2 separate regions of the Homo sapiens genome follow, and region 2 is linked to region 1. The links come from fine-mapping of genetic effects on gene expression. Tissue or cell type: whole blood. Region 1 holds a variant in brackets; the other region holds the start of a gene. All regions are shown on one strand. Distances are between the middles of the regions.

Region 1 (8,107 bases):
GCTAACATGGTGAAACCCCATCTCTATTAAAAATACAAAAAATTAGCGGGGCATGGTGGTGGGCACCTGTAGTCCCAGCTACTTGGGAGGCTGAGGCAGGAGAATGGCGTGAATCCAGGAAGCTGAGCTTGCAGTGAGCCGAGATCCAGCCACTGCACTCCAGCCTGGGCAACAGAACGAGATTCCGTCACAAAAAAAAAAAAAAAAAAAAAGAAAAAGAAAAGGAAAACTAAGTAGGAATTCATTTTCTAGTATTTCTACTATTTTTTTCCTGCTCCCAGCAGATCATCTTAGGAGACTACTGCTTTAATGGATAAGTTCATTTTGAAAAGTAGGGGTGATAATTATAATTAACATTTTTTAAATTATGCTTTAAGTTCTAGGGTACATGTGCACAACCTGCAGGTTTGTTACATATGTATACATGTGCCATGTTGGTGTGCTGCACCCATTAACTCATCATTTACATTAGGTATATCTCCTAATGCTATCCCTTCCCCCTTCCCACACCCCTCGACAGGGGTGTGTGTGATGTTCCCCACCCTGTGTCCAAGTGTTCTCATTGTTCAATTCCCCCCTATGAGTGAGAACATGCAGTGTTTGGTTTTCTGTCCTTGCAATAGTTTGCTCAGAATGATGGTTTCCAGCTTCATCCATGTCCCTACAAAGGACATGAACTCATCCTTTTTAATGGCTGCATAGTATTCCATGGTGTATATGTGCCACCTTTTCTTAATCCAGTCTATCATTGATGGACATTTGGGTTGGTTCCAAGTCTTTGCTATTGTGAATAGTGCCTCAATAAACATACGTGTGAATGTGTCTTTATAGCAGCATGATTTATAATCCTTTGGGTATATGCCCAGTAATGGGATGGCTGGGTCAAATGGTATTGCTAATTCTAGATCCTTGAGGAATTGCCACACTTTCTTCCATAATGGTTGAACTCGTTTACAGTCCCACCAACAGTGTAAAAGTGTTCCTATTTCTCCACATCCTCTCCAGCCCCTGTTGTTTCCTGACTTTTTAATGATCGCCATTCTAAGTGGTGTGAGATGGTATCTCATTGTGGTTTCAATTTGCATTTCTCTGATGGCCAGTGATGATGAGCATTTTTTCATGTGTCTGTTGGCTGCATAAATGTCTTCTTTTGAGAAGTGTCTGTTCATATCCTTTGCTCACTTTTCGATGGTGTTGTTTGATTTTTTTCTTGTAAATTTGTTTAAGTTCTTTGTAGATTCTGGATATTAGCTCTTTGTCAGATGGGTAGATTGTAAAAATTTTCTCCCATTCCGTAGGTTGCCAGTTCACTCTGATGGTATTTTCTTTCGCTGTGCAGAAGCTCTTTAGTTTAATTAGATCCCATTTGTCAATTTTGGCTTTGTTGCTATTGCTTTTGGTGTTTTAGTCATGAAGTCCTTGCCCATGCCTATGGCCTGAATGGTATTGCCTAGGTTTTCCTCTAGGGTTTTTATGGTTTTAGGTCTAACATTTAAGTCTTTAATCCATCTTGAATTAAGTTTCGTATAAGGTGTAAGGAAGGGATCCAGTTTCAGCTTTCTACCTATGGCTAGCCAGTTTTCCCAGCACCATTCATTAAATAGGGAATCCTTTCCCCATTTCTTGTTTTTGTCAGGTTTGTCAAAGATCAGATGGTTGTAGATGTGTGGTATTATTTCAGAGGGCTCTATTCTGTTCCATTGGTCCATATCTCTGTTGTGGTACCAGTATCATGCTGTTTTGGTTACTATAGCCTTGTAGTATAGTTTGAAGTCAGGTAGCGTGATGCCTTCAGCTTTGTTCTTTTGGCTTAGGATTGACTTGGCAATGCGGGCTCTTTTTTGGTTCCATATGAAGTTTAAAGTAGTTTTTTCCAATTCTGTGAAGAAAGTCATTGGTAGCTTGATGGGGATGGCATTGAATCTACAAATTACCTTGGGCAGTATGGCCATTTTCACGATATCGATTCTTCCTATCCATGAGCATGGAATGTTCTTCCATTTGTTTGTGTCCTCTTTTATTTCTTTGAGCAGTGATTTGTCGTTCTCCTTGAAGAGGTCCTTCACATCCCTTGTAAGTTGGATTCCTAGGTATTTTGTTCTCTTTGAAGCAATTGTGAATGGGAGTTCACTCATGAGTTGGCTCTCTGTTTGTCTGTTATTGGTGTATAAGAATGCTTGTGATTTTTGCACATTGATTTTGTATCCTGAGACTTTGCTGAAGTTGCTTATCAGCTTAAGGAGATTTTGGGCTGAGACAATGGGGTTTTCTAAGTATACAATCATGTCATCTGCAAACAGGGACAATTTGACTTCCTCTTTTCCTAATTGAATACCTTTTATTTCTTTTTCTTGCCTGATTGCCCTGGCCAGAACTTCCAACACTATATTGAATAGGAGTGGTGAGAGAGGGCATCCCTGTCTTGTGCCAGTTTTCAAAGGGAATGCTTCCAGTTTTTGTCCATTCAGTATGATATTGGCTGTGGGTCTGTCATAAATAGCTCTTATTATTTTGAGATACGTCCCATCAATACCTAGTTTATTGAGAGTTTTTAACATGAAGGGCTGTTGAATTTTGTCAAAGGCCTTTTCTGCATCTATTGAGATAATCATGTGGTTTTTGTCTTTGGTTCTGTTTATATGATGAATTATGTTTACTGATTTGCGTATGTTGAACCAGCCTTGCATCCCAGGGATGAAGCCATCTTGATCATAGTGGATAAGCTTTTTGATGTGCTGCTGGATTCGGTTTGCCAGTATTTTATTGAGGATTTTTGCATTGTTGTTCATCAGGGATATTGGTCTAAAATTCTCTTTTTTTGTTGTGTCTCTGCCAGGCTTTGGTATCAGGATGATGTTGGCCTCATAAAATGAATTAGTGAGGATTCCCTCTTTTTCTATTGATTGGAATAGTTTCAGAAGGAATGGTACCAGCTCCTTTTTGTACCTCTGGTAGAATTGGGCTGTGAATCCGTCTGGTCCTGGACTTTTTTTGGTTGGTAGGCTATTAATTATTGCCTCAAATTCAGAGCCTCTTATTGGTCTATTCAGGGATTCAACTTCTTCCTGGTTTAGTCTTGGGAGGGTGTATGTGTCCAGGAATTTATCGATTTCTTCCAGATTTTCTAGTTTATTTGCTTAGAGGTGTTTATAGTATTCTCTGATGGTAGTATGTATTTCTGTGGGATCGGTGGTGATATCCCCTTCATCATTTTTTATTGCAGCTATTTGATTCTTCTCTCTTTTCTTCTTTATTAGTCTTGCTAGTGGTCTGTCAATTTTGTTGATCTTTTCAAAAAACCAGCTCCTGGATTCATTGATTTTTTGAAGGGCTTTTTGTGTCTCTATCTCCTTCAGTTCTTCTCTGATCTTAGTTATTTCTTGCCTTCTGCTAGCTTTTGAATGTGTTTGCTCTTGCTTCTCTAGTTCTTTCAATTGTGATGTTTGGGTGTCCATTTTAGATCTTTCCTGCTTTCTCTTGTGGGCATTTAGTGCTATAAATTTCCCTCTACACACCG[C/T]TTTAAATGTGTCCCAGAGATTCTGGTATGTTGTGTCTTTGTTCTCATTGGTTTCAAAGAACATCTTTATTTCTGCCTTCATTTCGTTATGTACCCAGTAGTCATTCAGGAGCAGATTGTTCAGTTTCCATGTAGTTGTGTAGTTTTGAGTAAGTTTCTTAATCCTGAGTTCTAGTTTGATTGCACTGTGGTCTGAGAGACAGTTTGTTATAATTTCTGTTCTTTTACATTTGCTGAGGAGTGCTTTACTTCCAACTATGTGGTCAATTTTGGAATAAGTGTGGTGTGGTGCTGAGAAGAATGTATATTCTGTTGATTTGGGGTGGAGAGTTCTGTAGATGTCTATTAGGTCCACTTGGTGCAGAGCTGAGTTCAATTCCTGGATGTCTTTGTTAACTTTCTGTCTCATGGGTCTGTCTAATGTTGACAGTGGGGTGTTAAAATCTCCCATTATTATTGTGTGGGAGTCTAAGTCTCTTTGTAGTTCTCTAAGGACTTGCTTTATGAATCTGGGTGCTCCTGTATTGGGTGCATATATATTTAGGATAGTTAGCTCTTCTTGTTAAGTTGATCCCTTTACCATTATGTAATGGCCTCCTCTGTCTCTTTTGATCTTTGTTGGTTTAAAGTCTGTTTTATCAGAGACTAGGATTGCTACCCCTGCTTTTTTTTTTTTTTTTTTTTTTTGGTTTTCCATTTGCTTGGTAGATCTTCCTCCATCCCTTTATTTTGAGTCTATGTGTGTCTCTGCACGTGAGATGGGTCTCCTGAATACAGCACACTGATGGGTCTTGACTCTTTATCCAATTTGCCAGTCTGTGTCTTTTAATTGGAGCATTTGGCCCATTTACATTTAAGGTTAATATTGTTATGTGTGAATTTGATCCTGTCATGATGTTAGCTGGTTGTTTTGCTCGTTAGTTTCTTCCTAGCATTGAAGGTCTTTACAATTTGGCATGTTTTTGCAGTGGCTGGTACTGGTTGTTCCTTTCCATGTTTAGTGCTTCCTTCAGGAGCTCTTGTAAGGCAGGCCTGGTGGTGACAAAATCTCTCAGCATTTGTTTGTCTGTAAAGGATTTTATTGCTCCTTCACTTATGAAGCTTAGTTTGGCTGGATATGAAATTCTGGGTTGAAAATTCTTTTCTTTAAGAATGTTGAATATTGGCCCCTACTCTCTTCTGGCTTGTAGAGTTTCTGCTGAGAGATCTGATGTTAGTCTGATGGGCTTCCCTTTTTGGGTAACCCAACCTTTCTTTCTGGCTGCCCTTAACATTTTTTCCTTCATTTCAACTTTGGTGAATCTGACAATTATGTGTCTTGGAGTTGCTCTTCTCGAGGAGTATCTTTGTGGCATTCTCTGTGTTTCCTGAATTTGAATGTTGGCCTGCCTCACTAGGTTGGGGAAGTTCTCTGCGATAATATCCTGAAGAGTGTTTTCCAACTTGTTTGCATTCTCCCCGTCACTTTCAGGTATGCCAATCAGACGTAGATTTGGTCTTTTCACATAGTCCCGTATTTCTTGGAGACTTTGTTCATTTCTTTTTACTCTTTTTTCTCTAAACTTCTCTTCTCACTTCATTTCATTCATTTGATCTTCAATCACTGATACCCTTTCTTCCACTTGATCAAATCAGCTACTGAAGCTTGTACATACGTCACGTAGTTCTTGTGCCGTGGTTTTCAGCTCCATCAGGTCCTTTAAGGACTTCTCTCCACTGTTTATTCTAGCTAGCCATTTGTCTAATCATTTTTCAAGGTTTTTAGCTTCTTTGTGATGGGTTTGAACCTCTTCCTTTAGCTCAGAGAAGTTTCTTATTACCGATCGTCTGAAGCCTTCTTCTCTTAACTCGTCAAAGTCATTCTCTGTCCATCTTTGTTCCGTTGCTGGTGAGGAGCTGTGTTCCTTTGGAGGAGAAGAGGCACTCTGATTTTTAGAATTTTCAGCTTTTCTGCTCTGGTTTCTCCCCATCTTTGTGGTTTTATCTACCTTTGGTCTTTGATGGTGGTGATGTACAGATGGGGTTTTGGTGTGGGTGTCCTTTCTATTTCTTAGTTTTCCTTTTAACAATCAGGACCCTCAGCTGCTGGTCTGTTGGAGTTTGCTGGAGGTCCACTCCAGACCCTGTTTGCCTGGGTATCACCAGCCGAGGTGGCCGAACAGCAAATATTGCAGAATGGCGAATGTTGCTGCCCGATCCTTCCTCTGGAAGCTTCATCTCAGAGGGGCACAGGCTGTATGAGGTGTCAGTCGGCCCCTACTGGGAGGCTTCTCCCAGTTAGGCTACTCAGGGGTCAGGGACCCACTTGAGGAGGCAGTCTGTCCTTTCTCAGATCTCAAACTCTGTGCTGGGAGAACCACTACTCTCTTCAAAGCTGTCGGACAAGGACGTTTAAGTCTGCAGAAGTTTCTGCTGCCTTTTGTTCAGCTATGCCCTGCCCCCAGAGGTGGAGTCTACAGAGGCAGGCAGGCATCCTTGTGCTGTGGTGGGCTCCACCCAGTTCAAGCTTCCCAGCCGCTTTATTTACCTACTCATGCCTCAGCAATGGTGGACGCCCCTCCCCTAGCCTCACTGCCACCTTGCAGTTCAATCTCAGACTGCTGTGCTAGCAGTGAGCGAGGCTCCGTGGGCGTGGGACCCTCCAAGTCATGCGCGGGATATAATCTCCTGGTGTGCCATTTGCTAAGGCCATTGGAAAAGCGCAGTATTAGGGTGGGAGTGTCCTGATTTTCCAGGTACCGTCTGTCACGGCTTCCCTTCACCAGGAAAGGGAATTCCCCAATCCCTTGCACTTCCTGGGTGAGGCAATGCCCTGCCCTGCTCCGTGGGCTGCACTGTCTGACAAACCCCAGTGAGATGAACCCGGTACCTCAGTTGGAAATGCAGAAATCACCAGTCTTCTGCGTCGCTCATGCTGGGAGCTGCAGACTGGAGCTGTTCCTATTTGGCCATCTTGGAACCTCCTCTATAATTAACATTTACATAGTGTATGTAAATACTGCTAAATATTACTAATTCCAGTTCTTTACATATATTAACTTGTTTTACCTTGGTATCAGCCTTATGCAACAGGTATAATTATTATCTCCACTTCACAGATGATGAAATTGAGGTACAGACTGATCACCTAACTTGTCCACGGCTACACAATTACCAAGTATCAGGGGTAGGATTTAAACCTAGGCAGTCTGGAGCTAGAATCTAGCTCATCTAAAACCTGAAGGCCTGGCAAGGTATTATCATGCTAATCAGTAAGTAATCAGGATGCCTATGCATTAGCTTCCATAACACCTGCATAATCGCATGTATCTTACTATATTGTAATTGTTGCTTTGAATACTTGCCTCCCCTGTTAAGCTGAAAACTGCTTTAGAACAAGGACTGAAGTAGTTTTGTATTTACATAACAGTATTGAGCACAGTGCCTGGTACCTAAAAAGTATGTGGTAGGCGCTTGTTGGATGGATAGTTGGATGAAAGAAAAAACAATTTTTAAAAATGGATGGATGGATAGATGGATTTATCCCAACTTACTAGATAGCCATTGGAATTTGAATGTCCTTGAAATAGGGATGAAAATCTCACCTAACAATAAAAATATTCACAGACTTTCTTCTTAATGAGCTAATTCTCTCTTGCTAACCAACATATAGAAAAAAAATTATCTCTTGATGTTATCCAAGCCTTTTCAGGGAGGAAATACTATCCCACTCATGAGCATTTCAAACCCTGCAGAAACCAAAAAAGGTGAAAAAGAAAGGAATGTTGTTTATGGAAATAATACGTCTTGTCAGGAATTTGTGTTTTATCTCATAAAAAGAACAAAACAAAAAGAGAATCTGCCTTATGCTCTGGCATCAACAGGAAACCTAGTTCATTACAAATGTAGCCTGGATACCTCCAGGGGAAGAAAAAGATGAGTGAATGAATGAATGGATAATAGACTTGCCTTTTCTGAAGTGGAATCCAGGTTTTAATCCAGTCTTAATCCACTGTATGTGGTAACAGTTGCATTAGTAATATGCTTTGTCACAACACAAACTACCCAGACTGTAAGACTGTTGGACGTTTATACTCAAACCAAGAGTCTATGTTTTATTCATTTTGAGTGGCACAAATCAGCGCTGAGATATGGGAACTAAACCTTGAAAAGTTTCCTCCTATATTTGAAGCTGGAAAAACTTCAAGGCACTTTGATTCAAATACACATTCTATTAAAATGTGTATCTTGCTTAAGCCCAGGAGGTGGAGGCTGCAGTGAGCAGAGATCATGCCACTGCACTCTAGCACTCCAGCCTGGGCAATAGAGCAAAACCTTGTCTCAAAAAAAAAAAAAGTGTATATATTTCATACCAATTGCTTCTGTACTTAGTGTAGCTTAAGATACAAAAGCCTCTGAATCAAAACAGTAACTGCAGAATTGCTTTTACAAGTCTAATGATGTACTCAATGTAATGTGATAGGTTTCATCTAAATAATGTATAATTTTATCTGTTTTCCATTGCTTTATATTCTGTCAAATGGAAAACAGTTCTATAGAAGTCAAATTCTGGACTTCCTTTGTTATAACTATATTTCAGCTGATTAGTGT
Region 2 (8,107 bases), 170 kb after region 1:
TTTGCAAAATACATGGGGATGACTGAAAGGACCTCAAAAGTCCCTTCCAACTCTAAAATTCTCTTTTTAAAAAACTGGCTAATTAATCCCAGCACTTTGGGAGGCCGAGGCAGGCGGATCACTTGAGGTCAGGAGTTCAAGATCAGCCTAGCCAGCATGGTGAAACCCCATCTCTACTAAAAATACAAAAAAATCAGCCAGGTGTGGTGGCGCATCCCTGTAGTACCAGCCACCTGGGAGGCTGAGGCAGGAGAACAGCTTGAACCTCAAAGGCGGAGGTTACAGTGAGATTGCCCCATTGCACTCCAGCCTGCATAACGTCTCAAACAAACAAACAAAAAACAAAAAGAGGCTAATTGATTAAAAACAGGTTACACTGTCTTTTGGCTTATTTAGAGTGCAACTTCTTAAAAGAAGTCAGTGATACCAAATGGAAAAATTCCATTAATCCAGCTGTTTGACATCATGTATATATTTTCCTAAAATCAGTTATAACAAAAAAGTTCATCTCAAAATTAACAAAAATTTTTAGAATTTTAAAGATATAGACAGCTATTTTTAAAATAGCTGCAAATTTCTTCTACTTGGTGTTATAATACCTTAAATGACAGTCAAGTGAGGCTCTGAAGGTGGAGCAGATACAAAAAGTAATAGTGTAAGGAAACTGACTATTCACTCTATGGAAACAAGTTGTAATGGAAGATTTAGGAGCTCATCTGTGCTCCACCACTAACGAAAGTTATTTAAAAGTCTCCTCAACTGTAAAATAATGGAGTTGGACTAGTTCAGAGGTGCTTTTCCTGTAGACTAGGAGAGGGAAGACAGCAAAGAGGTAAGCTAGAAAGGAAATGAGAAACTGAAACAAAGATACCTTACATGATTAGCACATGAGGAAAGGTCCTTATGGACCTGCTACAGGGATTCTACAAACCCCAGATTGTGTGTAATTATGCATATGTGCAGAGTTCTGGGACACATCCCTTGCTTTCATTAGATCCTGACAGGGGTTTCTGACCTCAGGAAAGTTAAGAAACACTGTACTAGATGACCTAAGATCGTCTCAGCTCAGAAGTCAAAATCACCCTTTTTCTGTGCCAAACTTGGAAGTTCTGTCTTTTTTATTAAGGTAGCTTTACCTCTCAACTTCCAATTTTAACACAACTCATAGACATTTAATTATGAAAAAGAAACAACGTAAGAGGAGATGAGGGGTTACAGTTAGTGAAGTAGTCCCAGAGTTCTGACAAATTACTCAATCTCTAGAAGAAACCGAAGTTAAAATCTAAATTGCTAAAGTTGGTGTCAAGTTAATTTGGGATTAACTGTTTCAGGCTCGGAGGAAAAATAAGATATGTAATAATTAAAGCCATATTCCTTAAAAGAACGCTTGTCTTAGCAACTTTGTAACAGTTACTTTTTCAACATGCAAGAGAAAACAAAGAACAGTATAACTGTTTCTTCCCCAAACTTTACTAAATGCACACTGAAACTCTTAAAAATCAATGAAGAAAAACCTGCAGGATACATTTCTATTGGGAATCCTTTAGCAACAGACCTTTGAGCCCACATTACCCACTGGGAACCACCGAAGACGTAAGAAAATAGGACAAACCTGGGCTCGAACTTCCAAAAGAAGCCTAGGAGAGAGAGAAGAAAACGTGAGGTTAGATCGCACAGCCAGGGAAAGAGGCAGCGCCGGCAACAGGGCGCAGAGGAGGCGGAGTCGAGCGCTCCTCCGCAGCTGCCAAAAGTGCAAGACGTAGCTTCACTCGAATCGCTCCCGGCCCCTTTCGGGCCCCCTCTTGGCTGCCTCGCCTTCCTCCCCGAGTCCCAAGTGTACAAACTCACAGACCCGGGACGAAGCCCGGAGTCTGAGAGGCAACTCCAAGTCGCTTCTTGGAGCTCAGCAAGTTTCCAAGCAGAGAAGCAAAACCCAGAGCAGTCGGCTGGCACCATCAGTCCCCCATCCCTGGCATCTCCGGAGTCCTCCAAATCCCACCCGGCTCTCCGAAGCCCCAAACAACTCGAAACGTAACACCCTTTTCTGGAACGAACTCGCGTTCTGAGCACCTAGTTCGCCCCTGGGGCCCGGGAGCCCCAACTCCGAAGCCGATCTCTTCCCCTGCAGCGTAGGCCAGCTCGAATCGGACACTCGCCCCCAAACCAAAGCGCGAGCCCCCCATCCTCTCTCTCGAGTCCAGAGATGCAGCTCCTCTCAGTTCCAGGGATGCTGGCTCCTTCCAGAGTGTTCAGTCCCTCCCTGGACCGTCAGCGCGCCCCCCGCCCCAGCGAGCTCCAGCCCAGGGGCTCCTGCCACACCGCCCCCTCCCCCCAGCTCACCAGTCCCGGGGGACATGGCCGGGGCAGCTTCGCTCGCCCAGCCTTCCTTCCTCCAGCCCAGAGAAAACTGGAGCTATCAAGCCGCTCTCCTGGAGAGGGCGTCGAGGGTCTCGGTCTGCCCTTTAACCCCAGGGGCTCCCGCACCTCCCGGGCTGCGGGGTGGGGAGTCCCGCTCTTCTGAGAAGCCCGGTGGCCCCGCATCCCGCTCTTCTCCGCGCCCCCAGCAAAGTGAAGCGTGCGGCTCCTTCGCGCCGCAGCCCGGGCCCGGTGGGCCGGGGGCACAGCGCACGACTCCCGCAGGGCAGTGGCGCAGCCCGCTCCCCTCTTTGCGATCCGGCCGCGGAGGGGGGGCTCCGCCGGTTTCCACCCACCCGGGCCCGGGGAAGAGGCGCGGAGGCGCCGGCGGCCCGCGTCAGCGACCGGGGACACGGCACTGCCTCGTCCCTGGGGCAGGGCTCACTGCAGCCGGCCGCCACCTCCGTCCGGCTCGGTCGCCCGGCCCGACCGGGGCCGGAGCCGCCGCGGCCTAGTCCCGGAGGGAGACCGCTCCCGCGCCCGCTCCCGCCCCCCGGCCAGCCCCGCCACGGCCAGTCGCCGCCCCGCGACCCCCGCGTCGCCACGCCGCCCCTCATGGGGCAGCGGAAAGAGCCCCGGATCCCCCAGGCTGGCTCGGGGGTCGCGGGGAGCCGCCGGGCGCCCGCTCCAGCCCGGCTGCTCCTGCCCGGTTTCCCTGCTCACCTCCGCCATATTGGTACCTTTAGGGCGAACGAGCAGCGCCGAGCCCAGTCCCCGGATGGGGCGCCTGAGCCAATCGCAGCCGCCGCCGCCACCGCCGCGGTCCGCCCGGCACCCGCCCGGCGGCGGAGGCGGCACGGCCCCTTATAGGGCAGGGCGGCCCGCGACGCCCCCGGCCCGCTCGCAAGCCGACGCCGCCCGGCGCCCCTCGCCGCCCCCGCGCCGGCCCCAGCCGGCCAGACCCGCACCCGCGCGCACCGTCCTTCTCCTCCTGGCTGGTGTAAAGTTCCTGCCGAATTGGAGGCAAGTGGGGGACGGACGGACGCGCGGGCGCGGGACAGACCCACGTCCAGCCAGTGGAGGCCCAAGAGCCGGCGGGCGCGTCTGGGAACCGACCCACAGACACCGCGGCGCGGGAGGGCGTGCGGGAGGCGGGCAGGAGACTTGGACTGGCAGGCGATGTGCAGGGGAACTCGACAGACTCAACTTCCCTAAGAGGAGGAGGCGATCTATGAAATAGACAGATGTGGGAGGAAGCCCTGGGAAATGGGAGAAGAGGCTGGTGGATGGCAGAGTCAGTCCAGAATGAGAGGACTACAGTCAGGCACTTTGCCGTTTCCACGAAGGGACCTGCAGGAATGGGAGATGGAGACCGGTGTACACTGCTCACGGAGTGGACAATGGAAGTAGACATTTGCCAAACAGGTTATTGACAGCACAGAAGAAAAGACAAAAGATCGACAGGGCAGAGAAATGATGCTGAATATACTTGTACAGTTCAAGAAGATGCCCAAAAAATATAAACTGTGCTGTTATCCAAAAAAAAAAAAAAAAAAATTAGACCAGTTCTAGGAATTGTTCATCACCAACGTGTCTTAGGGGATGACCCAGAGATACTTGATACATCTGTTGAAGGACAGGAACAGCATATCAAAGGCCCTGAACTGAGTCTCAAAAATTCTACCCCTCACTTCCCTCACTTCTCCAAAAAGGCCAAACGTTTGGGTAGGATCATAAAAGGAAACTAGTCCCCTGTGCAAGTGGATGGGTGAAAGACGGAGCATAAGGCTTAACAGGAATACCTGCTCGTACATGTTCCTTATGACCATTTGCTCTTCATTGGAGGAGATTACTCTCCGGAAGGTCCACATCCACACTGAAAGACTTTGAGCCAAGTACACAAAAATATACACTAACGACTGATTGGAGAGTTAGGTCCTGCAAGAAGTTAAAGTAAGGTATGGAGTTGCCCTAGCAAATTTGGAGGACACATTGTCCTAAAGTGGGAGGCCAATTCTATCTGTGGAAAAGAAAGTCGGCTGTAAGGTACATGAATAAGTGAGATGCAAATACCATCAGGAATTATAGCAGGACCCTACAGGAATTTGGAGAGAGTGATCTCAGACACCAGAGCTCTTCTCCCAGCTTTTTTCTAAAACATACGTAATATTAAATGATAAAGACAAGTTTTTAGAAGCTAAAACTTTCCATACGTCATACTTTTAATCCAAACATGAAAGGTCTTGATTTTAACCTGGGGTCCCTCCAATTCCCTTATTGCTGGAGTGCATACTGAGGATGAGGCTGGAGACTGGAGGTAGGGAGAGGGTTATTTTCAAATTTTTTGCCAAGGCATCTCAAAATCAAGCTTATGCCACGGGTAAAAGTTATTTACTTATGGAAATTTTAGGGAAAAATCACTCCAACTATTTCTAAACATCATAAAGACATGGAAAATTACACTTTCCCTGCTGTGAAAGATATCTTTCGACCTTTTGTCCAGTCAAATAACTCAAAAACAGCTAAACTTTGAAACCAGACCTTGGCACACATTGTATGTACTGTCCTCAATGAGGCGTTCAGAGTTTTCAAAGTAAAAAAAAATGGCTTGAAATTAAGTACAAGTGAATAACTTTAGAAATGACGCAGTGAGCACGCGCTGTGGACAGAACCATGAAACAGTGCCCTGAGCAGCTGGACCGCAGTCTGAGCCACGTGAAGAAAGTGTCTCCAACAACCTGCCTCATACATTACACTGGGAAAAACATTTTCTTCCCAGCAAACTTGGCTAATCCAAACTATAAATGTAGTCTTAGATTATATGTTTTGCCATAACTGAAATATACACAGATTTATTCACTTTCATGAATCTAGTAATGTTTCTGTAGACTTTCTTTATATTCAATTGTAAAGATTTTGTATAGGCATTTGTAATTTTGATTGTTATATGCTCCCTATTATAGAACGTAGTGTAGGAAGTCTGAGTCCATGGTATTAAATAAGGATTCAGACAAAGATAAATGAAGCTAAATTTATTAGCAGTTGAAGGTAGCAGAGCTACTTTCCCCCACCTGATCACTAGAGAAAGTTTATCACTCAGTCTTACATAACACATTCCTTTATGATAAAGTGTGTAAAGTCTATATGTAGATGGAGCTCTCATTCTTTCTGATTGACAAGACTTTCATGAGTCAGTACAGATTAAAAATCCTTGTGACCCAAGGAGTTTAAATTAAAATACTATTACTTTTTACTTTTATTATCCTGTAACTATGCAATACAGGGCATTATATAGAAAGTGCTAGATGCTGGGCACTGTGGGACCACCATAAAAATGTCCTTGTCCCCCAAAAGCTTACAATCTAAGTAATTTCCATAGGTGGTAAATGGATATGTGAGCAAGGAAAACTAAAAACCATAGTAACCTCCTAAGGAGAACCAAAATGTCATAGATCCTCCAACCATCTTTAGAAAGGAAATAAATCAATACAGCTTTATTTATAAACATGTAATTTTAGAGGCTTCCAGTAAATTCATACAATAAAATAAAAAAACATATATAAAAAAATGAGGACCAACGAAACTAACTAGACTAGGAGGTTAACACCAAAGAAAAAGTAAGGACAAGGATCTGCAGGTTATGAGGTATTAACACAATACAATAGTTAAGCCATAAATGTAGAGCTTTCTGGCAGCCAAAGCAAAAAAGGTGAATGTAATCAGTTGCTTGCTTCTCATTGGAGAAGCATACAAATGTAGGAGAAATATACAAATTCTTTTGGTAACTGTCTATGAAAGTTGAGAGCACAATATGAATGACCTACTGAAAGCAGTTAATGGGGCCACAGTAATGCAACATAGATATTTAGGCTTCTGCAGATTCCATCTAACCCATGGGAAACTAATAAACCAAAGTTAATGTCTCAATCTCAAATGCCCATAGTAGTCAGGCAGGCATAATGAATGAGTGAAGCAGGCTAGTGTAGACAAACGCAGGAGTAATAGCAAATTTGGAGACGTGTCCTACTTAAAGATGGAAACCACTATGCACTACTTGGGTCAGTTTCAGCTTACTGGCCCAATGTTTCCAGTTTCAATTTTCCAAGAACAGCTGGAAAACTGAATTTTTATGTTATATCTCCTGGTCGTAAAATTTTGTCAACTAATTTTTTAAAAATTTAAACACAGTGTAGATCAAATAAATCATGTTAAGTAAATCATATTTAGCCTGGGAGCTTCCAGTTTGCGAACCTGATCTAGAACATCATCTTAGCGTTACTTCTCAGCATAGCTTGTAAGACTGTAATGCCAACAGTTAGACCCAGCATCAGGCCAAACTACTTGCATTTTTCTAAATTTATCTACTTCTCCTGCGTGATATTCAATTAAATATTTTTTGTTGGAATGAATGGCCACTCTCTGAGAAAGCTAACTGATCATAGTAAGTTTTGCCTAAACAAAAGATTCTTAACAAAAGAAAGATGATCTGCATGGTAACTTTAAAAAAGAGAGAGTTCTCACAGTTCAAAAAAGGTTTCAGTTCGTTTCTAAGAAGGGAACTTGGTCCATATACATGAACATATATCCAGCCTGTGAGTCAGGGCCATTCTTAAAATGAGATGGATGCATCAGGCTGACATAGCTGTGCAAGCATACCCAATTGGAACTTCCAAGTCAATGACTTTAAATTGCAGGAACATCCTCAAAAGAATTTGTAATAACTCTATCCCTTCTTATGTATTCCAATTGACTTCTAATTTTGTCATTATAAATTTAAATGGCTGCAAAGGATGTACTTACCTTTCGTAATGATGGTCATTTAAAAATAAAGCCATTATATAACACTTAAAATGTATGCAATGGAATCTAAATACCATAACAATTTGATATTTCATTATTCTTTTAAAAAGACATAAACATGTTTCTTGAATGGTATGAAATTTTACATGATTCCTTTTTCTCCTTGAACTCATATTCCCATTCTACTTTCTCCAAAGAAGTGTAATATGCTTTATGCTTAGAAGTCTTTTGTTGATACCCTACAATCTTTATCTGCAACAAAAATATCCTTGTAAATTGATAGTAAAGAGAAATAATTTTCCTCCAGATTGAATTATCAGTACAATTACTACTAATTTACATTTGATCTAAGCAATATACATGTATTACAAGTTTTGAGTAAAGCTTTTTGAACAAAAATTGCATTGGAAATCAATCTATTGATAAGATGAATAGGATCTTTAAAAATTAATTCATGTACCCATGGATGAATATTACTTAATGCTAGAATGGGAGTTTAACATCAATTTTATTCTTAGTCTTTATTTATACAGAAGTAAGGTTTGAGAAACCATATTCATACACAAATAGATAGAAATGGAAGGGTTTTGTTACTAAACCATCACTCAATTTGTTGATCTCCTTAGTAATATCTCCTTAGTAATACATCATGTTATGATCTTCTATCAAACATTATTTTTAATGATCTATACGCTGATGTTTTAAATGTGTTCCTTCAACTTTGTTGAAAGCTAAGAGTTAAAAGCTACCTGACTTGAAAGAGGATTTTTTACAAAGCTATTATAGCTCATCACTATAATTCACTTCAATTTTGATGAAGATTACCAAAAAAGCCTTTGCCAAGACTTATCAAATGACTGTTAATTGTACTGTTTCACGTAGAGGCAATTATTTAACTCAACAGGCTCAGAAAAGGGAAGGAAAATGGGAGCAGTGTTAATTTTAAGACTCT

What was found. PIP is the estimated chance that this variant, and not a neighbour inherited with it, causes the effect.
Region 2: it holds the start of MIER3, and the variant in region 1 is fine-mapped to the expression of MIER3 in whole blood (INTERVAL, PIP 0.94).

Annotation. Positions count from the first base shown.
Region 1 is chr5:56,775,959-56,784,065 of GRCh38, forward strand. No RefSeq gene overlaps it. Among named protein-coding and RNA genes, the nearest start is that of MAP3K1, 36 kb to the right of the region's middle. The variant C/T (reference allele first, on the strand shown) is at 3,518.
Region 2 is chr5:56,949,016-56,957,122 of GRCh38, forward strand. It overlaps MIER3 (MIER family member 3), which reads right to left and starts at 3,108. Exons shown (of 13, transcript NM_001297599.2): 1 at 3,079-3,108; 2 at 1,613-1,637. The coding sequence starts at 3,087. RefSeq lists an enhancer at 1,940-2,029 and silencers at 2,600-2,769, 2,830-2,939, 2,970-3,389.